Linked DNA regions of Homo sapiens: regions 1, 3, 4 and 5 are each linked to region 2. The links come from fine-mapping of genetic effects on gene expression. A gene starts in region 2. Each other region holds a variant in brackets. All regions are shown on one strand. Distances are between the middles of the regions. Region 1 overlaps DOCK9 (dedicator of cytokinesis 9). Region 2 holds the start of DOCK9 (dedicator of cytokinesis 9). Region 3 holds the start of DOCK9-DT (DOCK9 divergent transcript). Region 4 overlaps DOCK9 (dedicator of cytokinesis 9). Region 5 has its middle 39 kb from the start of DOCK9-DT.

What was found. PIP is the estimated chance that this variant, and not a neighbour inherited with it, causes the effect.
Region 1: its variant is fine-mapped to the expression of DOCK9 in blood mononuclear cells (TOPMed, PIP 0.96).
Region 3: its variant is fine-mapped to the expression of DOCK9 in whole blood (INTERVAL, PIP above 0.99).
Region 4: its variant is fine-mapped to the expression of DOCK9 in whole blood (INTERVAL, PIP above 0.99).
Region 5: its variant is fine-mapped to the expression of DOCK9 in whole blood (INTERVAL, PIP above 0.99).

What each region holds. Positions count from the first base shown.
Region 1 is chr13:98,843,805-98,848,804 of GRCh38, reverse strand. It overlaps DOCK9 (dedicator of cytokinesis 9), which reads left to right. Exons shown (of 53, transcript NM_001366683.2): 37 at 166-213; 38 at 2,745-2,881. Among named protein-coding and RNA genes, the nearest start is that of DOCK9-AS1, 14 kb to the right of the region's middle. The variant TA/A (reference allele first, on the strand shown) is at 2,375.
Region 2 is chr13:98,975,537-98,980,536 of GRCh38, reverse strand. DOCK9 (dedicator of cytokinesis 9) reads left to right here and starts at 2,473. Exons shown (of 53, transcript NM_001366683.2): 1 at 2,473-2,753. The coding sequence starts at 2,628.
Region 3 is chr13:99,085,900-99,091,090 of GRCh38, reverse strand. DOCK9-DT (DOCK9 divergent transcript) reads right to left here and starts at 4,368. Exons shown (of 1, transcript NR_047482.1): 1 at 2,466-4,368. It also overlaps a transcript of DOCK9 not described here. RefSeq lists enhancers at 2,683-3,242, 3,805-4,366 and silencers at 3,247-3,476, 4,057-4,116, 4,207-4,516, 4,557-5,036. The variant ACACACACT/T (reference allele first, on the strand shown) is at 2,391.
Region 4 is chr13:98,896,634-98,901,633 of GRCh38, reverse strand. It overlaps DOCK9 (dedicator of cytokinesis 9), which reads left to right. Exons shown (of 53, transcript NM_001366683.2): 14 at 3,373-3,455; 15 at 4,024-4,146. Among named protein-coding and RNA genes, the nearest start is that of DOCK9-AS1, 67 kb to the right of the region's middle. The variant T/AT (reference allele first, on the strand shown) is at 2,582.
Region 5 is chr13:99,045,365-99,050,364 of GRCh38, reverse strand. It overlaps a transcript of DOCK9 not described here. Among named protein-coding and RNA genes, the nearest start is that of DOCK9-DT, 39 kb to the left of the region's middle. The variant AG/G (reference allele first, on the strand shown) is at 2,847.

The DNA of each region.
Region 1 (5,000 bases), 130 kb after region 2:
CACTTTCCAGAGGACTCCCAAAAACCATTCTGAATGAATGAGGATGTGACTTATGCTGGTACTAGACATAATGTTTATTGAATTTGTTATTGTTAACAGATAAATAACGTCCCGAAAATAATTTTATCTTTGCATTTCCCTAATAATTTTTCATCTTGCCTGCAGAGTCTGCCTGCACCAGTTCCAGTACATGGGGAAGCGATACATAGCCAGGTACTGTGGGGCGTTTTCATTCGAAACGTGTTGTTTTCTGTGATGCCTGGCTCTGATTGTGTGGGATTGGTCATCAGTGGCGGTTGGCAGTTGGGGTTCATGGAAGCGGCCATGGGGACTGATGGCAGGCCCTTGGATTGCCACCGCAGAGCCTGGCAGTGTCTTTGGTCTGCATTCCTACCGGCGAAGTCTCATTTCACCTCACGTGTTATCTCTTGGAAAGCATTCCTTTAGCGGGCTGTGTCTACCCTTCCATCCTCTCGTCCAAACTCCCCCTCCTTCTCTGTTCTGTCTCCTTCCCATCCTCTTCTCCCCAGTTCTTCTTCCTATGTTCCTTCCTCAGTGGTTTCTCTTCCTCTGTTTGACTTTCCAAGGTCATTTTGACTGTTCCTGCTCCCAACTACAAAGATACTAAAATCTCACCTAACCACTCTTCTTCTTTCTTAATGAAAGAATGTTTTCAGTCCATCCCAAATTTGTGTGGACTTCCACAAACCTTCTCTAAAATGGAGCCTTTTCTCTTCCTACTCTTGACTAGTTGGTAAACGCTCCATGTTCTTGGCCAGAACTCCCTGGTGAGTAGCGTCACTCCCACTTTCCTGTGCAGAACCAGCCTCCTAGAAACTCCTTGCAGCTGTGTGGCTGGACACGCCTTCTTTGGGGGCGTTTCTTCGCAGCACCTCTTGTCCTTACCAAGTTCTTCCTCCTGCCCCACTGCCATTCAGATTGTCTGTTTGTTTTTTTCTGTGTTGTGAGCCATTCTGTGTTATTGTATTAGTGGGGTCTTGGTCTAAGTATTATATTTTTTTACTGTTGTTTTTAACAGCTTTATTATAAGTAAACATGTTTTAAGAAAAACTTAAAAATGTAATTGTCATTGAGGTTTGTTTCTCTATATATCGACAATTTTGTCTTATAGTGATGAAATAGGCCAGAGATTTTTAGTAGACTTCCTCTTTGTGAAGATTTTCTTTTTCTGTTAACATTGTTCTTTTCTGGGGATATTTGAGAAATTTTCAGAATTACATTTTATGTTAAGAAGTAAACATGTATGTTTTCTTTTTAAAAGAAGCAAATTTAGAATTTTTGCATTTTCCTCCTATTAATATTTTCTATTTTTCATTGAAATGTGGTAGCACTTAAAGTTCTCTAATCTTAACTGTTTTATTTTTTATCACAACAGTAATTTTATATTTGAGTTTTGGAGTACTAAATGCAAGTATATACAAGGTGTCCTTATACCAGCAACGTCTTCTACCTTGACTTGGATTCTCCCTGACTTTGTCCCATGAAGATGGGCAAACAGTAAATTCTGTCACAGAAAGGCACTGTGCTGGGCTAGCTTCACTTTTTGCAGTGACACCTACGTCACAAGATGGCATTTGGAGAATATTGTGCCAAGTAGAATAAAATGCCTCACAGCTTAAAACAGTGAATGTGAGAAGCTGAAGATTTCTGTCCCAACAAAATGTTTTAGAATCGGGTTTTGTGAAATGGTTAACGTATTTTTTTCAGTGGATATAAATTTAACTTCTTAAAAGAAAATCTTCCTACTTCATAAGCACCCTGTATATATTTGCATATAAAAGTGTGGACTGCCTTAAAAATAGATGGGCCAAGGAAAACAGGAGTGGAGATGATGTGACTTTGCTCCATGCACTGTGGAAAGATATGCTCTGCTCTATACAAAAATTGCCATGGTTCTCTGCTGCATGTGAAAAAGATCCTGAACTAGACTGTGAACCTTGTACATGTTTGCCATCCACGGTGGTCGAGTTTGATGAACACTGTGCCTTCTTATTGTCACTTTGAAGTCACCCAGCAGCATGCAGTCGATGATAGTCCATGCATGTCCCTGTTCTCCTACACACAATAACACAGTGAGGGGGACGGTTGGCTCCGGGACAGGGGACAGGTGTCATTGCAGCCCTGGTCTCATTTTCATCTGCTCTGGTGATGGTACACAGCAGGAAGTTAGCTGTTTGATTGCTAACCCAAATCACTCTTCTGTTTTCTCTACTTGACTGCTGACAAGTTTAACAAAGTGTGTGGCTCTTCTCCTTCCTGCTTGGGTAAGAATAAAGGTGTTAAAACTCATATAATCCCTTCCTTTGCATGTTTGTTCTCTGTGTCTTCCAATGCATTTTTTAATTAAAAAAAA[TA/A]CATGTCTTTTGCTTTTTCAGAACATATATAATCCAAAAAGATTAGTGACGTTTTGACAGTCGTCAGAACACTAACCATTAGTACTGCATTGGAGTGATGCTCACTTTTTTCAGAGTAGCATCTCTAAAGTACTTTCTAAAAATAAAAAGGTCCCTGCTTTGGCCTGATTTTTGCTTCTGGATCATCAGGTGCTTTGCCGTGAAGTGTGCAGGAGCTGCCGCCTGTCTGTGTCTCTGGCTGCTCCACTGTGTTCAGTCAGTGCATGGCCATCTCCCTCGTGCCATGTTCTGGCTTCACTAACACTCCCCGTCTCGCTGCAGTGTAACACGTCTAACTTTTGCTTCTATCCCATTTCACTCATGTTGCAGGAACCAGGAGGGGTTGGGACCCATAGTTCATGATCGAAAGTCTCAGACATTGCCTGTTTCCCGTAACAGAACAGGAATGATGCATGCCAGATTGCAGCAGCTGGGCAGCCTGGATAACTCTCTCACTTTTAACCACAGTAAGTCCCATGACATGCCATCGTAACAGCCAGCCATCTCATGTGCCATCTCAGAGGGGAGAGCCCTAGGCCACACCTACCACATCACCAACTCAATTTTTCTTCTAGCTCAAAGCAAGTAGGATGAAGAGCTCATGGCACAGTTCCCTTCCTTGGAGGAGCGTCCTCAGCATTTGGGAGTGACACAATGTGGAACGTGCTCAACTACAGCACTAAACCTAAAAGTGCCTGACCCTTTCTGCATCCCTAAAACAAAACTCGGCTGGGTCCATAGCCAGCCGTTCTCAAGAATTCTAAACATAAAATTTGGATTCATCACCTAGAACCGACTTAATGTTGGCTTTCCCCTGCAACTCTGAGAACATTCGGGATGGATTTCTTTCACCCCTTCTGATCCTGTGCATGTAATTGATCAAGCGTCCACATTCTGACATTCCAGCTCTGAATGGATGTTAATCCTTGCACTACTGTGAAAACATAAAGCCCATGAATCAATTTGTGAGGGTGTGGAAAAGCATCCAATAACAAAGTGACTTTTTCTGTGTTTTCAGTGTGAGAAAGATATCAAGTGTGCTTGGAATTTCTGTAGACAATGGTAAGATTTAATCAGGTTGAAGTCTGCTTTATGAGGTTGCTTCACTTGCAAGCCAAGACCCTTTTTGTTCATCTTGCCTTCCTAACTTTGGGGCTTTCTAACTTTACAAAAGAGATTCTGCCAGAACAGGGGAGCATATTTTTAATTTACTTTTATCAGTCAGCAGAGGGGACAAGGCATTGTGTGCTGTTTCTAGTAATTTAAGTGCTTTATCTTCTTAAGGGTTTCTCAAAGCAGAACACCTGAAAGATATCAACCATACAGCACGTGAAAAATTGATGAGATCATTTATAATACCCATTTCTGCTAGCATTGTGTTCTCTAAATTGTTCCATCTCTTCTCCAAGCATGACACAGCTAGTTATTGTTTTATCTCAACAATTATTTGTTATTCCAAGTGCTGTCTTTAATACATGGTTATTAATATCCTTCCATCATGTCTAATAATAAATTCCATTCGCTGTGATTTTTCACACCTCTTTTTAAAATACAGGCCAACAGTAAAGGCAGTGTTCCCAATGCATTGTATTAATAATAGTTCAAAGTAAGACACCTGAGGAACCAAAACAAAGCAGCTTCCCACACCTCTGACCCAGCAACGTGGGCATTATGAAGATTGTCCGGGTGCAGTTTAAGTGTTATGAAGATTGGCTGGGCATGGTGGCTCATGCCTGTAATCCCAACACTTTGGGAGGCCAAGCTGCTGGTGGCCAAGCAGCAGGTGGATCACTTGAGACCAGGAGTTCGAGACCAGCCTGGCCAACATGGTGAAACCCCGTCTCTACTAAAAATACAAAAACTAGTCAGGCTTATTGGCACACACATGTAATCCCAGCTACTGGGGAGGCTGAGACATGAAATCACTTGAACCTGGGGGGCTGAGGTTGCAGTGAGCTAAGACTGTGCCACTGCACTCCAGCCTGGGTGACAGAACAAGACCCTATCTCAAAAAAAAAATAAAAAAAATAAAAAATGTTATGAAGATAGTCTGTCTTGATAAAATCCCAGGCTTAATTTAGATAATGTCAGTCTGCCACACGGAGTTGGTAGCCATAAAATGCTACTTCTGAGTTCTACACTTAGCTGTAGAATGCAAATTGAGTGACACCTTTAAGGCTACAGTACTTGATTTTTTAACATCTTTTCTGTTGGGGCTTTGACTAGTTCTGCAGAAAGGGATTGGAACAAAACCAGGAGTTTGTTATTTTTAGTTTTTCTTTGCCATTTAGCAGCAGAAATTCAATCCCCACTGATAAACAGAACCTGCTGGACCTCCTTTGCTCAGATAATTTCTATAACACAGAGGTTAACTCACTATTGGTTGAAATAAATGCTTAAACTTTGAAGCACTTTTTAAAAAATCATAAGTACACCAGTGCTGCACCTCCAATGATAATCATTTAGGAAACACAGAAAACAAAAATTAAATGAATGGTCCACATGTGAATAAATAACCTTAATCCACTCGGATATGCAGCAGCTCTTCCCACTGCAAATGGGTTTTGTGGTGGTAACTTGAATTGG
Region 2 (5,000 bases):
AAAGCCAGATGCTGCTGTCTTTAATTGCTGACTGGTGATTGGTATTGTGCCTTTTAGCAGTTTGAACATAGTATCATGGTTAAGCGTGTGTACACTGGATCCATATTGCCCCTGCTCTCTGTATAACGTTCTGCAAGTATTTAACGTCTCTGGGCATCAGTTTCCTCATCTGTCAAATGAGGATAACAGTATTACATAGAGTTATGAAGATTAAATAAACAATCTTTGTAGGGCTTGAACAGGCATGGGCCATAGCCAGCACTTACAGTGTTTGTCAAATAAATATCTTAAAGTTCATTTCTCATTCCTTACAGAATACCAGGGTATTTTGACCCAACAAATAGGGTAGGCTGAACACAGTGGCTCACACCTCTAGTTCCTGCTACTTGAGGGGCTTAGGCAGGAAGATCCTTGACTCCAGGAGGTCAAGACTGCAGTGAGCCATGATCGAGCCCCTGCACTCAGCCTGGACTACAGAGCAAGACCCTGTCTCAAACAACAACAATAACAAATAGAATAGCATTTCTCTTATTAATGCCCAGACATTCTGATGGCTTAATGGCGATGGGGATTTGAGGAAGAACTGGACTATTTAGAACTTCCTGAACCATCTCAAAAAGGTTTCTGAGTTGTTGGTTGGGCTGTCCTTTACTAAGGCTCAGTTAGTCTGTTTTGTGCTTGTGGCTTCATCCTTTCTTTGATTTGTAGGACATTCCTAAGTTTTTACTTTACTATAATTTCGACTCTATAGGTAAGTGAGAGTTTTTTCTTACTGGGTTTTTTCTGTTGTAACTTTACAAAGAAAGATTTTTAAAATTTATAGATAATATTATTTTGGAACACAGATTTGGTAGGGGGACTTCTATTAACCCTGAAAGACTACCCAAGGTTGAGAGATTGGGTAGTTTAAAAAAAATTATAGAAGCCATTAATTTATTTGATGGACTCATTGATCCTTTGAGATCGTTACATAATTGATATTCACACTCAGAAGGGTTCCTGGTGTTCAAGTGGCAGAGACCCAGCTTCAGCTTCACTCTTGAAGTAGAGCAGCTGCAGCAGGTGCTAGGAGAGGGAGGCGGCTGTGCGAGGACTGGGTGGCATCTCAGTTCTCCCCACTGCCTCCTCTGAGCCCTCCTGGCTGCGTTCCTTTGTCTGGAAAGTGGGAGACTTTTACCTGTGACTTGTATAATAGTTTATGTTATTTCCCTGGGTAGAGTTCCTCTGGCACCTATTGTTGCTACATGATAACTACTCTCGTTGTTGACTGACTGAATACTGCTGCTGCTGCTGCCGCCGCTGCTGCTACTACTACTACTACTACTACTACTACTACTACTACTACTACTACTACTATTGCTGCTGCTACTGCTGTTACTGCTACTGCTACGGCTGCTGCTGCTGCTGCTGCTTGTTGTCTACTGTTACTAAATCTTCCCTGATGTCCAGGAAATACTCAGAGTAACTAGGAAAAGCTCTGCGGTATCCATGAAGTACAGAGTAATATTTGATCCCCCCTTTAATGTTCATTTCTACATAACTTTTAGACAAATCCCTTAATACCTCTGTTTTAATTTTTCCCAAGAGGTAAAAAAGACTCCACTGTTAAATGTGAGGAAATAATAAAAATACAGACTTTTAGGAACACATATTTTGGGTGCTACTAAACCACCATTGAACCGTAGGTTGGTGATCCAGCTATTTTCCCGTGCTTTTGTGCATCTCTCTCTTAATTTTATTAATTTGTCATTTATGATGTCTGCTCTTCTTGCCTTCCCAGCTAGATGTGAAGTTCTTTGAAGGGAGAGATACTCTACCTTATACTTTTAGTATGATCCTCTCAGCACCTAGTACTGGGGGTACCTTCTGATACCCACACATCTGGACTTAAAGTAATATTCTGTTTAATAAATGCATTTACTATGATATGTGGTATCCCATGAAAATGTTTTGATGACCTCATCTTTCTGGCATCAAATAGTACATAAATTAAGTGTTTCATGCTGTGGTCTGTCATGCGGGGTGAAACTCATTTCCTCCACCTGTATCCACGAGGTGCAGGCTATGGGAACATACTTGCTGGTAGCTCTTCCCTGCTTTAATCATCAGCCAGGCATTTGGTTTTTAACCATAACACAAATGAAAGCATTCCAAAACTGGAAGAATTTTAGAACAAGCAGACAACCTTGCTGTCTCTTAAGCTCCACGAGCTTCAGATTTAAGGTAATTATGAAGGAGTCTAACTGTGACTGGTTTTCTTTTAAACACTGCAGTATTTTGATTCCGATTGATTTGGCCCACGCTGTGTGGAACAGACACAATAAAGCCGGTCTTTATCAGAGAGGCAGTACACTGTGTATTGTTCAGCTTGGAGTTTGTTTTCCTTTGGCCAGCAAGTAGGAGCCTCCCCTTTTGCATGGAGTAGTAACACCCCTGGAGGCTGGCCTTTGCTGTCATGCCTTCCCACCCCACAGGCTCTGCAGACCCAGCCAGCGGGGCTGACCACTTGTGCCTGGGAAGCCAGTTTCCTTTCCTTCCTTGGACCACTGGCATGCCTGTGCCTTGCACGGCCAGGGACTCGCAGCTGTTCCAGTTGCAGACTTTCTGACTTGCGTTTTCAGCCGAGAATGCAGGCTGATAAATGCAGGACAAGTAGTAGAAGTGTCAAAAAGGAACTGGTGATTGAGTCCCCCCTGCAATACAAGGATGCAGCTCAGGGCGAAGTGGAAGCAGAGAGCCCGGGCCCTGTGCCGGTAAGAGGGTCTCGTACAAAGTGTTGCTGTGTCTACCCAATGCTGGGTTCTTATTGTGCGTGTGGACGGGGTTGACGCCTGTTGCCTGTCTTTGATTTCAAAACTTGCTCTGCTTGTCCCTTGTGAACTCCACTCTTTCCCTGTAATATGACTTCGATTCCCCTTTGATTCTTCTTTGTGAAGAAAGAAATGTTGACATTTTGTGGGTGAATATGGTTTCTGGGAGGTTTCTTTGTATGGGACAATTATGTATTGTTCACAATTATGTCCCACCTAGCTGCAGTGTTTGCAAATGTAAACCCAGGAAGCATATTTTAATTGCAACTATAGGGTTGAAAAAAGATGTGCTTTGCAAAATTAAAACCTTTTCTACGTTATTTATGCTATTGAGAAAATGAGGCAGGTCCCATTGGGGGTTTTAAGGAACATAACTGTTGGAAATATTACATAGTTTAGAAAGGATAAAATCACATATGTTCTTCTCACTCATTTTACCAGGAGGTTTGCCTTGAATAAAGTAGGGAAGAACCTAAACTGTGAACCAGCTGATAGAAACGTTTCTGTTCTTAACATCAGCTAAACTCTCAGCATTTGTCTAAAGCCAAGTGCTTTGGTGGACTTTGGAGGGGAGGAATGTGAAAAATGGTTGTGTTGTTATCATCAGTGAGTAGGTTGTGCTTCTCTCGGAATTTCTTCAGTACAATAAAGGCACATAATTTTTTAAGCAAGCTGCACAAAACCACCAACATGCCCTGCAGAGGGGGGACAATTGAGCCTTTCAAATTATCTGCTAAAGAGATTGTTAAACTGATATGTAGTGATTTTATTTAGTGATTTTTTTTTTTCTTTAACGTGGAGGTTCAGTTGATGTTACCATGAAGTGTTTGCTTACTAATTTACTTAATTTTCAATTAATGTCTAAGAATCTGAACTTAAACTTTCCTATAACAGATTTGATTTGAACTGAGTTGCTTTCTTTGTGACTCGTGAGACTGCCCTATATTTTATTGCCTTCAAAACTATATTGCTAACCCTGAACTGAAAAGTTAGTAAAATATCATGGTCTTTTTCACTGCAGATTTTCATCTTAGAGATTTAGGTTTCTTTTCTTCACCCTCTGCTACATTGTTTAGAAATGTAATTCATTGTTCTGGATTCCTTGCTGCCAATATAATAGCCCACTTCTCTGTTGGGTTGCTCACAGGCTGTATGGATTTCACTGCTTAAAGCAGCTGATGTAACTTAGGATTTCTTGGAGGAAGTTGTGTGGTTTAGGTTCCCTTGTGAATATTCTTAAAAATCTTCTGTCAGTGATTCTCCAGCTGTGTAGAAATATTTGTCTACAGGACTGAATACACTGTAGAAAGATGCTATGCAATTTTTTTTTTTTAAGCACACAAGTGACTTCTTAAACTTACTTCTCTTTCTAGTGCTCAAGAAATTTGCCATTTATGTCCTAGCTATTTGTTTAGGTAAATCTCACTCCAGGCAGTTCCTCTGGGGGTCTTTTTCCACTGCAATGGATAAAGCTGTGCTGGCTACAGCTGCATTTGGTGGGAACACTTGTCAGGGCCCAGCAGCTTGTGGCAGTGTGATCTCAGCTCTGCGCACCTGCAGAGAGGGGTGAGGGAGTGAGGAAGCCAACAGTGATACCAGAAGTTTTTTCTTATCGGGCAGTGTTTCTCTTCTTCCAGCAGGGTAAACAAGATAAGAAGAGCTAATGTCAGATCAGGGAAGCAAGGATATTTCAGCAGGGCCTTTGCCGAGGGCAGATCTCTTACCTGTGGCTGTTGCTGCCCACTGGCAAACAAGAGTTCAACAGACTGCTGGAAAGGCAACTTGTTTCTCAAGATGATTTTTCAGAAGGAGGCAGACACCATTGTGCAACCTGTTTGTGGCAGTACTATTCATTGTTCGAATGTCAGTGGCCCACGGGCTTGGTAAGAATCCCCAAGACTGTCTATCATTTGAATGCATTATACCTAGAGACGTTTAAATGTAGGTAACATGCTTTATTCAGGAGGTAGCATTTTGAAATAAAGTTTTGCTGTTTTTAGTTATGTACAGAAACAGTCCTTGGGGAAAAATATTACATAAATTAAAACGGATAAAATTAATTAATGCGTGTAGTATAGAAGTAGGAAAAACAAGAAATGCAAATAGTGTAGCAGTAGGAAAGACAGTGTCCTTGTTTTTACTCTCCAGTGGTGACCATTATTAATAATTCAGTGTATATACTTCCAGACT
Region 3 (5,191 bases), 110 kb before region 2:
GGGCAACATAGTGAGACCCTGTATCAACAAATAGTAAAAAAAATTAGGTGGGCGTGGTGGCATGCACCTGTCCTCTGAGCTACTTGGCAGGGTGAGGTGGGAGGATTGCTTGAGCCCAGGAGTTCAAGGCTGCAGCGAGCTATGATGGCACCACTGCTCTCCTTCCTGGACAACAGAGCAATAATCTGTCTCAAAATAAATAAATAAATAAAATTCAATCAGTGCAAGGATAAAATAAAGAACGAAAGTCCCCTTTCACACTTCCCTGTGACAGTGCACAGGAGTGCCTCCTTTTTATGGGTCACTTGTTATTTTTGCTAAAAACAGATATACTCTTTCAAGATATATCCAGAAAAGATTTTAAACTAATTATATGTTATTAAGACACATACAAATCCTAAAGCAAACTTAACAAGGAAATGATGTAGTAAGAGGTTATCATTAAACATGAGTAATGCTTGAATTATAAATTTGGGTGTAGTACAGTCATTTACATGCAAATTTCAGAACTGGCTGCAATTATATTTCATCTCCACTACCTACTAGTATAATTTTCAACAGAAAGAAAAGCTTTCTTCCTATAGTTTGGAAAAACAAAGATGAGGTTACTCCATCAAGCTAATGTAGGTGGATGTATCTTCTACCGTACCTGAGACACCATCCACCCAGTCCAGCCAGAGGTCAGCCTCATCCCAGGTAGCCAGGTAGCACCCTCTTTTGGGCTGATGCTCTGCCCCTCTGTAGGTATGACTGCTCTCCAGGAAATAGTGATGCCAAAAGAATTCACACAATTCCAGGCCCACTCTGGTGGAAATTTTAAAAATAGCCTTTGGCCAGCATGTTGGTTTCCCAGGACTGCTGTAAAAGTTCCACAAACTTAAAACAACAGAATTTCTTCTGTCACTGTTCTAGAGGCTAGAATTCTGAAGTCAAGGTGTCAGCAGGCCATGCTCCCTCTGATGACTTTAGGGAAGAATCCTTCCTTGCCTCTTCCAGTTTCTGGTGGTTCCCAGTGATCCTTGCTGTTCTGTGGCTTGCAGGTGTGCAGTATTCTCCTTCCTACCTTTGTTGTCACATAGTATTTTTCCTTTGTGTATGTATTTGTGTCTCTTCTTATAAAGACACCATTCAGGCTGGGCGTGGTGGCTCACGCCTGTAATCCCAGCACCTTGGGAGGCTGAGATGGGCGGATCACCTGAGGTCAGGAGTTCGACCTGACCTCAGCCTGGCCAACATGGCAAAACCCCTTCTCTACTAAAAATACAAAAAATTAGCCAGGTGTGGTGACAGGTGCCTGTAATCCCAGCCTCCTGGGAGGCAGAGGCTGCAGTGAGCTGAGACTGCACCACAGCACTCCAGCCTGGGCAACAGAGTGAGGCTCTGTCAAAACAAACAAACAAACAAACAAACAAACAACCATTCATACTGAATTAGGGCCCACCTATTCCAGTAGGACCTCACCTTAAGTTGGTTACATGTGCAAAGACCTATTTCCAATAAGGCCACATTCACAGGTACTGGGTTTGGAACTTCAATATATCTTTTGGGGGACTACAATTCAACCCAGAACAGTAGGGACCAAGTTTCTGCTGAAACTTTAACACTAGGAATGTCCCATTTGTTATCAACAGCACTTCACCAGGAAGAAGAGGCTCCACTCTGGGTTGCTGGGTCCATCTTCCTGGGCTTAGTTCACGTTTCCATGCCGCCTTGTCTGTCAGAACCTGTGCTTGGTTAGACATTGCCAGTGACTACTGTTGGCACATTGTCTGTTGTTCTCTGCTTCCTAAATGAAAATCTGCCAATTCTAGAATATACTGAATCAGCAAGTAAGTACAGAATTTAGGAGTGGTAGAGATATGGATAAAATTGGTAGGTTTGGGGAATTCTTCACTTTCCAGATATACATATATTTAAATAAAATTTATGGTAGGTCATTGTCTTGGACTGAGCTCCTGAACTAGGCCCCAACAGACCAGACTAAAATGAAGCCACTGTGTTAGGTGCCACGTAACTAAACAGAGATTTTAAAAAACAGGAAAATCCCCAAAAGGGCCAGTTTTCCAAAAACCAGGAGATTCACAGCAACCAGTCAAACGGGGCCCAGTCAGCCTGAGCCAGCTAAGGCAGCCCCCTCTGCTTTAACCCATAAAGGAGAGTAACCTGAAGTTACCCGATGTGCTTTCGGCACTATGCTTTTCCCTTGTTCCTGCTTAAGTTACCTTAACAAAACCCAGCTGTTCTTCCATTCCCACAAGAGCTCCCGTCTATTTTGTAGTCAGAATGCTGCCTGGTTCATGCATTGCTAATAGAAGCCAATTAGATCTTTAAAACCATTTGTTGAAATTTTGTTCTTTAGACTACACACACACACACACACACACACACAC[ACACACACT/T]CTACTGTAATCATATAGCTCTTAAAAAAAGAAAAGAAAAAAGAATATAAAACCCTACAACCTTAGGTGCTTTTGTTGTTGTTTTTAATTTAAAAAGACAAAATTGTTCGCCTTGTATAGAAGTAGATACAGCTTAGAGAGCCAAGGTAACAAGAGGGGAAAAGTTTGTGTTGTCTGGTACTTTTGAGGGAGTCAGAAGCCTAAAGGGAGGCTCTAACTCATGATTCTCAGAAGACAACTGTTGTCAACAGTTCAAATGAGAACTGAACGGCCACACTCCTGCAGCTGAAAGGAGTCAATGCGAGCTGAGTTGCTCTCACCGAACAGAGTGCGTTCCCCGGGGAGGCAGGGAAAGGCCGGCTTGCACCTGCTCTGTCACCCAGCTCCACTCTTAGGACAGAAGAGGTCTGGAAAATGTCTGGGCCATTCCCTCATTTCACGGAGGAGGAAATGGGTTAGTGTGTAATTGTTTTTATCATCACCCTTGTTTTATCTTTCAATCTGCCAGGCTCACTCAATGCTACATCCTGCAGTCCCCACCCACTGGAGAAACAATCCGATCCTGCAAGTAATTATTGAGTGCGGACGGCATACCTCACCTCCAGACCTGCCCATTAAACCCAGAACGGAGGTGTTTTGCTCTCTGCGCTAGATCGGTATTTTCCCCTACCACTTTAAGATTACGCTTCAGGCCAGTGTTAGGCTTTCTGGTGGGGTGGGACGCAACAGGCGGCCTCCTCCACCGCAGCGATGGCGGCTATGAAACCTCTGGGTATTTGGGCGGGAGGCGCGGCAGGTATTCTCCCAAAACTGGGTTTTCAAGACCACCACTCTCTGCGGAGGCCGACCCGGCAGGTAAGGAACTGTCCATCGGAAGGCAACGGGCGTGGCGTGAGCAGCCCGACCAATCAGCAGAGCCGCCGTTCAGTCAGGCTCCCCGCCCGGGGTACCCGCCCAGTCCCCAACCACTGAGCATGCGCCGCGGGCCTGGCGCAAATCCCCGCCTGGCGCGCCCTCTCCGCGGCCCTGTGAGGGTTAGGCTGCGCCGGGCTTCCTCAGAGAGACAGAAACGGAGCCGGGGCGGGAGCGGGCCCTTAGGGACAGGAAAGCGGTTAGGGTATTGGGGGGAAAGTCCCTCACAGGGTGGCTGTCGCTAGCGGCCGCCAGCTCTGCGTCACGGTGGGCTCGCAAGCCGGCGCATCGCAGTTTCCCTGGTACCCCGCCTGGCGGTCCGGCGCGGAGGGGCGGCAGACCGGCTAAATCGGCCCCAGTGAGGGCCGCCGTGTCACCTGAGCCCCTTCCAGGCCGTTGTCCTCAGGTTACAGGCGACATAACCGAGGCTCCGAAGTATTGCCCACGTCCAAGGTGACGCAGCTGGCCGTCCCGGCGGGCCGGAGTCTGGGAGTCTCCCACGCCTGGCCCGGCCCAACCGTCATCGTCCCGCCGCGAGCTCCGTGCCTCCGGGGACTGAACGGTGGGGAGGCCGAGGCGCCACACGAGCGCGCGGCGCCCCGCGCCAGGTTCCGAGCAGGGACGCTCCGTCCAGGTCCGCCTGGCCGGCCGCGGGTTCCGATCGGTGCCACATAAATAAAGGCTACTTTCCTGAGACCTCTGTCCCCGCAGAGGCCCCGGGCGCAGAGGGGGGGCGTGGTGCACCGAGCTCCGACCCTGCCGGTGACTTCGGGGTCCCCTCGAGCGCAGCCGGGCTCCCTGGGCAGGAAACCCTGCTCCGAAACCGCGCATCGTCCAGCCTCGGCTGTGCGCCCTCTTGGTGGCGTGCGCAGTCCCCTCCTCCGGTCTTCGGACGTGCGGCCCGGGGCGGAGGCGGCCCCGACCCCCCACCTTCCCCAGTGAGGGTCCCGCGCGGCACGCCGCCCCTGCCAGTCCGGCCGCCTAGCTCCAGCGCCGGGCCGCGCCGACCTGCCTGGCCCGCCGTCCCGCCGCGGCGGCCCCTCCTCCGCCGTCCGGGCGCCCCGCCCCGCCCGCGCCGCGCCGGACACCCCGCCCCGAGGAGGCGGCCCGGCGAGTGGTCGCCGAGGGAGGCTGGTGGCATGGGGGAGCCGCCGCCGCCACACGCACGGTCGCCCGGAGCGAGCCCGGGCGCTGCTGCGATCGCGGGGGGCCGCGGACGCCGAGGGGGGCGCCTTGGGGCGTGACACGGTGCAGAGGGCGCGGCCTGGGCTGCGGCGGCCGGACTCGCGGCGAGCAGCGGGGGGAGCAGGCGGCGGCGGCGCCGGGAGCGGCGGGCGGAGCGGGCCGGGCGCCGAGGGCGCACCTGGCGGCCGCGCGGCCGGGCCGGGCCGCGGGAGCAGGCGGAGGCGGAGGCGGCGGGGGCAGGAGGATGTCGCAGCCGCCGCTGCTCCCCGCCTCGGCGGAGACTCGGAAGTTCACCCGGGCGCTGAGTAAGCCGGGCACGGCGGCCGAGCTGCGGCAGAGCGTGTCTGAGGTGGTGCGCGGCTCCGTGCTCCTGGTGAGTGCGGGACGACCGCGGGCCGGGGGAGGATGGCGGGGGCGCAGGCAGCTGCGGGCCCCGGGCCGGGCGCCTCTTAGTCGGCAGGGCTGAGGCAGAGCGGCCGACCCTGCTGGGTCCGCGGAATCAAGAGGTGGGGCCGGCGGGAGGGAGTTGGACAGGGGAGAAGAGAAGGTCCTGGAGGGGCTGCAACTCCCAGACCCCTCCCCGCCACCCAAGATCCTGTCCCCATCGCTGTCCCCTTCCTCCTGGGAAATTTCCGCAGAGTGATGTCGCCCTGTCACTCTTTTCACCCCGCTCTCTCCCAATTTACCTGCTTTCTG
Region 4 (5,000 bases), 79 kb after region 2:
AACTTTATGTCTTGATTTTGAAGGAAATGTAGTCCTATGTGTAAATAAAATGATCCACTTGACTAGACAGTTCTGACATCCTAAAATAATTTGCAAAGGAATTACCAGCTTAATAGTAAACTTTCTGTGTTAGAAGGTACATGTATGATATTCAAATAGAGTTTCTTCTATCTGTTAATTTGCCTCTTGGGTTCTGAAATTCTATTTTGGTCCACTTACACTTATATATGAGGCTGGAGACCAGGAGATGCCCTTGGCTCAGATGACCTGGCCAGCAGTGTCAGTGATTCAGGTCCACTTGGTTTTTGCTAGAAGGGGCAGAGTTTTAGGTGGAAGATGGAAAGAAAACATACATGATGTATGTTTGGTTTTTTTCAAAGTAGTGTTCATTACTTGGGAAGTGCCTAGGCATGGACATACCATAGAATTATTAAATATTAGAGGTCATCTAGTCCAAGATGTGCTTTCATATTTCAGGACACTGAGGCTCACCAAGGCTTAGTGATCTGCTCAGTGTCTCATGGCTGGAGCTGCCAGGGGGCACTTGACTGCCACTTCGTAGCACCTTGTGCTACCTGGTTAGTGTAATCTGTTAAGTGCTATTATCCTTGCCAGTTTTACATATTTTTAGTTATTTAAAAAAAAAATTGTGTGGTCATCTGAGAGGCCTGAATTCACTGACAAGGACTGGTCAGCAGTAGGAGTGGATACCCCAGAGGCTGTGAGTGAAGTTTACTAAGTTGGATTCAGAGCTTCCTATCTTCACCTCTATGGGCGCCCATGCATCACAGCTGTGTCCACAGGATGCACGATGGCCATTGAGAAATGGATTTTGGAGTCAGAAGACCTGGGTGCTGCATGCTTAACTCATCTGGGTCCTTTGGACAAATCACATCACCTCTCATGGCCTCCATATGTTCCTTCTGTGCATGAAGGATGATGTTACTTCTTGCCTCTGCCTTCCTCATAGGGACAGTGTTAGGATCAAACAGATCATGTATGAGTCAGTGCTGTGGGCACCATAAATCACAGAAAGCCCAGAAGACATCGTCATTTATTACAGCCCCAGTCAAGTAAAAGCCCATTTACCCAGGCACATTGGTTCCAACAGTAAGCCTTTTTGGCTGATGAAAGCTGTGTAAAGTTTGGTCTCTGGAGAGAAGCTGTTTTATTTTTTTAAACCAAGTCTGTAAAACCTTGGATGAGAAGCTCTTTTAGCTCTTTTATGTTTTGATCAATAATCAATGAAGGCCCAATATAAGATCTCCTCCCCCGACCGTGTATGCAACACATTTCCAAGGCCCATCCACAGCAACTTTGTTACTTCTGCCTGCCGCATGCATGGTTTGAAATTTGGCAGCTCATATTGGTGTAAAAATCACATATCACTGTAGGCTAAACTTACCTCTGCACACTCCTCCATGTCCACTGAGCATCTGCTGAAGTCTGCTTTTTCTTCATTTTTTTATGGAATGTAAAGCTCATCCATGTGTACATTATTCATGCATTTACTTTTCTGCCACCTCCAAAGCATTCAATTAAAGCAGGAATTAAGGCTCAACTATCTTACTTTAGCACAGTTTTGGCAGAGATGTTACAGTGAGATGATTTTTTTCTGTCTGTCAAAGTTGTTTCTTCATGTTTTCCAAGATGGTCTAGAACATCATTTAGAGTAAATTTTCATTTTGGAGGAAATTTTTATGAAAAGTCTCTGTAGGTATCTCCTGTGAATAGAGGTTTTAAAAAGAAAAAGAAGGGGAAAAAAGCCCAAAGGGAAAAAATAAGTTTCTTACTCTGACTTTCACACATACTGTGTTCTATTTGCTCCCTTCATATGTCCGAGAGCTAAGTCCTCATTCACTGCAGAAAAGGCTTATTGATGTTTTATGTTTTAGCTTTAAATTTTATGAAATTACTGCATTTTACTCCACAACATATTCATCATTGTTAGAACCAAAAAATCTTGAACCTGAAAATGTTTAAGTAAATTGACCCTGCAGCTAGGTAGGCCATTGTACCCTATAACTCATACACCTAAGACCCCACTAAGTCGCCCCACCCAGGGAGGCAAGAACATACCTCATTGGAGAAGGGGGGAGGTCCTAGATGATTCCCTGACATCTCTTCCAATTAGGATGTATTTTCCAGGTTACTCATGAAGGCAGCAGTTCCTACAGCATGATTATGGTAGGATTATAAAGTTTTGCAACTGAAAGGGATCATGAAAAGTATAGCCTAGCCCCCATTTTCAGGTGTGGATAGTGGAGCTCAGAGAGGTTTGATGGCCTACAGAGTCATACAGCTGGATTCAGTGTGACTTAGAGACAGACAGCTCTGTCATCTAGATCCTTCTGGATCCTTCTAGATCCTTCCTGTGGCTGATGGTACACACAGATCACCGGAGGTCTTGTCAGAACGCACGTTCTGATCCAGGAAGTTTGGGGCAAGGCCTGAGACTCTGCATTTCTACAGTGATGCTGATGCTATAGCACACTTTGGTTTTGGAGTACATTTCCCAAAATTGGTTTGACTTTGATATACTTATGTAAAAGACCCTTCAGTAAAAAAAAAAAAAAAAAAA[T/AT]TAAGTAATGTAAAAGACCCTTCACTGTAACTCTGAGACAATCAAACTTTGCATTGATGACAAAGCACTATCACAGTACAGACAAATTTGGAAAAATTAAGCATTATCTTTTTTAGCAATAGGGGTATAGATGATTAATAATAGGTCTGCCTTAGGCTAAAAGCAAATAAGCTTCATTGTACACTGTGAATTAATCAATCAATCAACAACAAACCAAAATTGATCATTAGGAAGTAGAAATAGCAGTAATTCATGTTTAGAAAGCAAGAATATAGCATTGAGAACCCCAGCCTAACTGAAGTCAGTATCTTAATATCTTATCCCTTATATTGTGGGAATCAGCATAAGCTAGTGCGCTTTAGGAGCTGTGAAAGCTTAGTATTTTAATTAGTGTTCTCATTTCAATCCTAATAATGTGATATATTTTGATATGGATACCAAATAGTAATTATTAATAACTCAGTAGACTTATAATAAGTAGCACTTAGTCATAAAGATGTATGAAAACCTCTGAAACAGCATGTTTGTTGCCCGTAAAGACCAAAGAAGAGACATGGATTTTGGAAAGTCTTCGTTCTGTATTCTTTGAGAATCACTGCTAGAGAATGCGTTAAATAAAGTACTCTGCACAGAGTGTGAATCCAGCCATATTCATTACTGTATGATGTGCTTTTCTATGCATCCAATGCTATGGTAAGGACTTATTTAGTGAGCATGTAAGGATGGCTCTTGAGGTCACAGTTCTTTCAGTGAGATGCAGTATCTCATAGCTTTATTCTCATGTCTTCAAGGTGGCCCAGAAGGTGCTGAAGAATGCCAAGCAGGCATGCCAAAGACTAGGACAGTATAGAATGCCATTTGCTTGGGCAGCAAGGTAAGGAACACCTTTTATACCTTTTAAATCGATATAGATAGGTGCATGGATGGGTCAATAGGCCTATTCTGTTTGTTGTTCAGAGACAAAGAGGATTTGAATGTGTAAAACTGAGAAATACATAAGCCCAGATTTTGAAAAAATCATTTGGTAGAGTCACAGAGAGGATAGACACTGTCTGGAGAAGTGCTACCTGGAACTGGCAGGGTGCACGGTAGTGTTAGCTGCAGAGCTGGGATTCAAGGACCCAACCACATGCCTCCAGCTGGAAGTCAGGGCAATCCAGTGAGGCCTGGGGTGATCTTTATCTCTTGACTCTACTTGTTAAGCATTTGACTTGTGTATATTGTTTCCTAAGCACAAGCCATTGGCTGGAACTGTTTTCTATGTAAATTGATTTAGTTGTCCTCATCCCCATAGATGTTTTCCATGTTTTTAGATAATGAGATTTCTGTTGGCTATAGCCAATGGAATAATAATTAGACTTCTCATAGAAACTAGACTTAAATAATGAATTGATTTTGGTGTTTTGGAAACCCAGTTTAGAAATGTTGCTTTGCCATTTCAGGACATTGTTTAAGGATGCATCTGGAAATCTTGACAAAAATGCCAGATTTTCTGCCATCTACAGGCAAGACAGCAATAAGCTATCCAATGATGACATGCTCAAGTTACTTGCAGACTTTCGGAAGTGAGTTTCAAGGTCTTATTTCCACACCTGAAAAATAGAAGCTGTGTAGTGGGGAGGGAGGAACAGGGGAGCAGTCACTTAGGTTGCTCGATTTAGACATCAGAGGGGATGGCAAATGAGCGTGAAGCATTTCCTCAAACCCTTGAGAAGAAAGATGGGGTGAAAATCAGAAGAATAACCAGTTAATTTGAATTCTGTAGAGGATGTTTTGGGTGGTGCTGTGAAGGGTGGACTGGGTAAGGATGAGCCTATGGTGGGGAGGAAACAGTTGAGGAACCTTGTCAAGAGGTGAGAAAGGACTCAGCAAAGCCACTGCAAGTGCAAACAGGAAGAAGGGGACAAATTCAAGTCGTGCCAAAGAGATACGATGACTGGGTCTTGGCTTGGGGTGGTAATAGTCTAAGATAAATAACTTGCAAGGTTTCTAACTTGGAAGTTTCTGGCACCAGTTGTTGCTTAGCTTGTGGCAGCATTGCTCCACTCTGCCTCTGGCCTCACATGGTCCTCTTCCTGTGTGTCTCTGTCTAAATTCCCTTCTTAGAACACTAGTGATAAAGCATCAGGGCCAAGCCTAGTGACCTCATCTTAACTGATTGCATCTGCAGAGACCCTGTTTCCAAATAGGTCACATTTATAGGTACAAAGGGTTGGGACTTCACCATGCTTTTGGAGGACACAATTCAACCCATAACAATGAGGCAAAGAGGGAGCAAGGAATGTGTGCAACATCACAGGGCCGGCAGCTTCCCCAAGTCAGTCTCACCCGAGGGTCTGTGTTCTTAACCTCTATGCTGTTTTGCTGCTACATCCTAAAGAGTTCACTCTGAACCTTTGAAACTGATTTTCTTTGCTAG
Region 5 (5,000 bases), 70 kb before region 2:
CTGTTTGTAGCTGATTCAGGTTTCGCTGTCTCGGATATTTCCATTCGTGTATCACTGCAAGGGGAAGTGGTTTTGCTTTTTTTTTCTCCTACAGGCCTGAAATATGGAATGAACTCTAGGTACTTGATTTTAATTAAAGCATTACCAAAGTGTTATTTTTGCTCTGTGACATAGATAAACTACACATGCTATGTGTCTTTCCATTTTTGATTTGTTTTTACTTGCTGTCCATGGCTTGAAATTTTAGACAGGATCCAACATGCAAGCAGGTGTCATCTTACATGTTGAAACCTAAATATCCTCCATAAACTTTGATAGCTCCATAGGTTATTTTCAGTATTTTCACATATCATATTTCAATTTTTTAAATCTATAGCATAATTGCTTCTTGTATTTTTAGATGTCATGAAGATGTTGGCCTAGGAGAGAACCTGCAGCATTCATTATCTGGAAAGATCAATCATTTCCTAATGAAATCCAGTTTTGTATGTTAGGGATCATTATCTGATAATACAGTATGTGTCCTGCTTTCAAAAATTTAGCTATTGGCTGGGTGTGGTTGCTCATTCCTGTAATCCCAACACTTTAGGAGACTGAGGTGGGAGTATCTTTTGAGTCCAGGAGTTCAAGACCAGCCTGGGCAACATGGTGAAACCCTGTCTCTACAAAAAAATTGTAGAAAATTAGCTGAACGCTGTGGCGCACACCTGTGGTCCCAGCTATGTGGGTGGGAGGCAGGAGAATCACTTGAGCCTAGAGGTTGAGGCTGCAGCGAGCCATGATTGTGCTTTTGCACTCCAGCCTGGGTAACAGAGCAAGACCCTGTTTAAAAAAAAAAATTTCAGCTGTTACATCAGTAGCCTTTAACACACTCCCTCAGTCCAGATTTGTCTTTTTCTTTTCTTTTCTTTTCCTTTTTTTGTAGCTGGGACTACAGGCGTTTGCCACCATGCCCAGCTAGAGTTGTCTTTTTCTAAGATGTCCTTACTCCATGGCCACACCATGCCTCCCGATGACAAGGCTGACCACACTGCCCCTGTCCAAGGAGCAGCCTTCAGCATTGCCTGCTACCTCCTTTTGGCCAGATATTCTGAGGTTGGAAGGTGAGGGGTGATAAGGTATGTGGATTCAGAAGTACTGTAAACATACTCAGATGAACAGTATTACCATTTAAGAATTTTCATTTCACAGTTGGGTTTCATCTCCAAAATTCTTGAGTAATGAGAGAATTGAGTAAGGGTAGTCATTGATGATTCTGTTGGGTCCAGAAAACAGAGTGATTGATTGAAGTCTGTACAATGCCAAAACATATTTTTAACTATTCATTTTCTTTCCATTCTTAGCCATACAGAAAATAACCAAACAAAAAATTAAACACGAACTCCACAGTCAGACTTATTCAGCTGTTTATTATTATTATATTCATTATTTGTACTTAGCTATGATTATTCAGCTTATTAAGCTTTGCTGTTTATTAGTAGCAGAGCTTAATGTCAGGGATTTGAATTTCGCTTTTTGGTGTGAAGTCTTTACCTAACAAAGTGGGAAGTCCCGAGCAGTGGTCAGTGATGGAATAATAAAGGTACAAGTATATTAGTGCTTACAGTTACAAAGAGAACTGTAGAGAATGAGAAATAGTGGCACTGTGAGGATGGGAGTGTTGCATGTGAGCTGTCCCCATTTGTCATAGCAGAAAGTCAGTTGAAAATATTTGGAAAGGATAAAATTGAGAAATCTGTATGTTACAGTTATGGGGGCAGCAGGAGGAGAGCAAACACTGGAAGAAGCACCAAAATATGGAAGGGAATTGCCTCCGAGGAGCAGGGCTGGGAGTGGAGTGGGTGAGCCAGGCCACCCTTGCTTTCCGTGATAAGCCCTATTATTGTATTTTTAGTTATGTGCTTGTTACGTTAATGAACACTGATGAACACAGAGCATGCATTATTCAAAATTCCTTCTTATTTTCTTTTCTAGAGTAGGGACAAATAAGAGTGATGAGAAGATGAGCAGTAGCAGAGGGGAATGGTAACTGGGGAAGCTCCGCTGGGGTGCACGCAGGCTGTCTCCAGGTTGGCTGTCTTCAGGCGTGCTTCTTACTCCAAAACTGGAAACTTGGTGAAAATCCTGCTGTTGGCTTTGAGCCGGCAGAAACAAAACAAAACAAAACAAAACAGATAAAACTGTAAACCAAGAAGCAGCACATGAACACTTTTAAACACCGTATGAAGATTTTCCATAACTTTAAAATACAATGGAATATGTTCTCAGTGAGAACTGTCATCGGACATCAGTGTTTGATTCGTGATTTTGCTGACATTGAGGTCCCTGGTGCTGCCCCCAAACTGGAGGCCTGCCCAGGGTGAAACTTTGTGTCAGAGCCCAGGATTTGACTCCTAGGAGCTCTGCTGTTGGGTATTATACAGGAGGGCAGGAATTGAGTTGTAAAAGGCCAGTGAAAGGGAGGGAGAACAATACATTGAGTTTGTATCCAGGGACACTTTCCTGGAAAGGTGGTTGCTTGAGGCTGATGCTTCAAGATTAGGGCCAGGCGCAGTAGCTCCTGCCTGTAATCCCAGCACTTTGGGAGGCCGAGGTGGGTGGATCGCCTGAAGTCAGGAGTTCAAGACCGGCCTGGCTAACATGGTGAAACCCCGTCTCTACTAAAAATTAAAAAAAAAATTAGCTGGGCATAGTGGTGTGCACCTGTAGTCCCAGCTACTCAGGAGGCTGAGGCAGGAGAATGGCTTGAAGGTGGGAGGCAGAGGTTACAGAGAGCCAGGATGGCACCACTGCACTCCAGCCTAGGCGACTGGGCGAGACTCCGTCTCAAAAAAAAAAAAAAAAAA[AG/G]GATTAGAACCACTGATTCTCAGAAAAAGTTTGACTTTCATTATTTTCAGACAACACCTAAGGAGTGAAAATAAATGAGACTAAGAAGATGTTCTTAGGCCCCAGAATGTTTAAAAGTAGAAAGACAATTTCCTTATTCTAACCTGGGGACCCTGATGGTAACAGACGTGCTTATGTGCTGCGATGGCAGCTGATACTCCTCAGCCTGTGGTTCTCTGCCCCATCCAGAGAGAGCCTGAATCTATACACAGAAAAGGCTGTGTTTCTGAGGAAATAAAAAATATGTACTTTTAAAATTTTCTAAATAGGCCCTACTTCTAGGGTCAGCTGGCGTGTATTTCAATTAGCACATTATCTTGGGAAACTTTACCATGAGGAAAAGTTTACTCATAGGCTTGGCCATTTTTATTTATTTGACCCCCATGAATAGTCCAACATAGCCACCAAAAATTGCACAGATGTCAGTGGCTGTTTGGCCGTGTTTTAAATAAATATTTTGTCTTTTAATCATCAGAGATAGGAGATTAAACCTGGACTCGTCCAACTTTGGCTCTCTTCACGCTCATCCTTATGGGAGAGGAAGTGTCAAGATGGGCTTTCCTTTGGAGCATAACCTAAACAGGAACCTTTTAAAAACCTATCCAAAGCTACACTTTGTACCTTAAACGCAGGCATGAAGTATGAGACATTTCTGGTGATGTCTTCAGGAGGATTAAGAGGTCAGGAGTTAGATGTAAGAATGAAAGTAAAGTAAGTGATAGATCTAGGCAGAGAAAGATGTTGACATCTGAGCTTATACTCTGAATAAAACAGGTTTCCAGGCTGTGTGTGTTTATTTTACACCCATGCACTTACACACAGTATGTGATAACACAGCAGTGATTCACAGTGGCTCTTCAAGGCCCCTCATCTGTGAGTCCTGGACTTTCCTGTCAGGTGTGCCCCCTCATAACCAGGCATGTTCTATGAGGTGTTTACTGTCGAGACAAGTCCCACAAGTTGGGCAACCCTTTAAGTGCTGTTTTCCGGAGCGCAGCTAAGGAGGTTAGCATACTGGGCGCAAAATCCTTCCTCCTTTTGAAAACCTCAAAACCAACAAACTACTTCCTCTGTTAATCTCATGGGTGAGTGGCAAAGCCCAGGCCAAGCCCTTGGTTGTGCAATGTGTTATGGCCCTGGAGTTAAGGATCCTCCTACTCAAAGCAGGAGGGCATCATTCCAGCAAAACCTGTTGGTGTGCGTCCCACCTTCCAAGTGAAGATATGCCAGGTGGGAGGTCGCTCGGCTTGTTCTGCCCCGTGCTGAGCCTGGGCTCAGTGTTGGGACATACATTTCTGCCTTTTCTGTCGTTGCTTAAGATATTTCCTGGTTGTCTTGTGAATTCTAGACACAGTGATGCTGGTTTTTTTTTTTTTTTGAGACTGAGTCTCACTCTGTCACCCAGGCTGGAGTGCAGTGGCACAATCTCAGCTTACTGTAAGCTCCGCCTCCCGGGTTCACGCCATTCTCCTGCCTCAGTCTCCTGAGTAGCTGGGACTACAGGCACGTGCCATCAAACCCGGCTAATTTTTTTTTTTTTTTGTATTTTTAGTAGAGATGGGGATTCACCGTGTTAGCCAGAATAGTCTCAATCTCCTGACCTCATGATCCGCCCGCCTCAGCCTCTCAAAGTGCTGGGATTACAGGTGTGAGCCACCGCACCCGGCTGCTGTTTTTTTTGTTTTGTTTTGTTTTGTTTTTAAAAAGATGATTAAGCTGGTGAGGCATCTCTTTTTATATATGCATTTTTTGACAAAAATTCCGTATATTTAGGGTATACAACATGATGTTTTAAAATTGGAATGGTTCAATCAAGCTAAGTAACATGCAATACTTCACATACTTAACATTTTCTGTGGTGAGAACTCAGTTCTACTCTCAGCTATTTATTTACTGTAGTCACCATGTTTATACTGTATTCCCCCTAGCTAACTGAAATTTTGTATCTTTTTACCAACATCTCTCCAAACCCCACCCCCAGCCCCTGGTAACCACCATTCTACTCTCTACTTCTGTAAGTTTGACTTTTTTAGAGTCTACATCTAAGTGAGGTCATGTAGTATTAGCCTTTCTTTGCCTGGCTTACTTCATTTAACATGATGTCCTCTATGTTC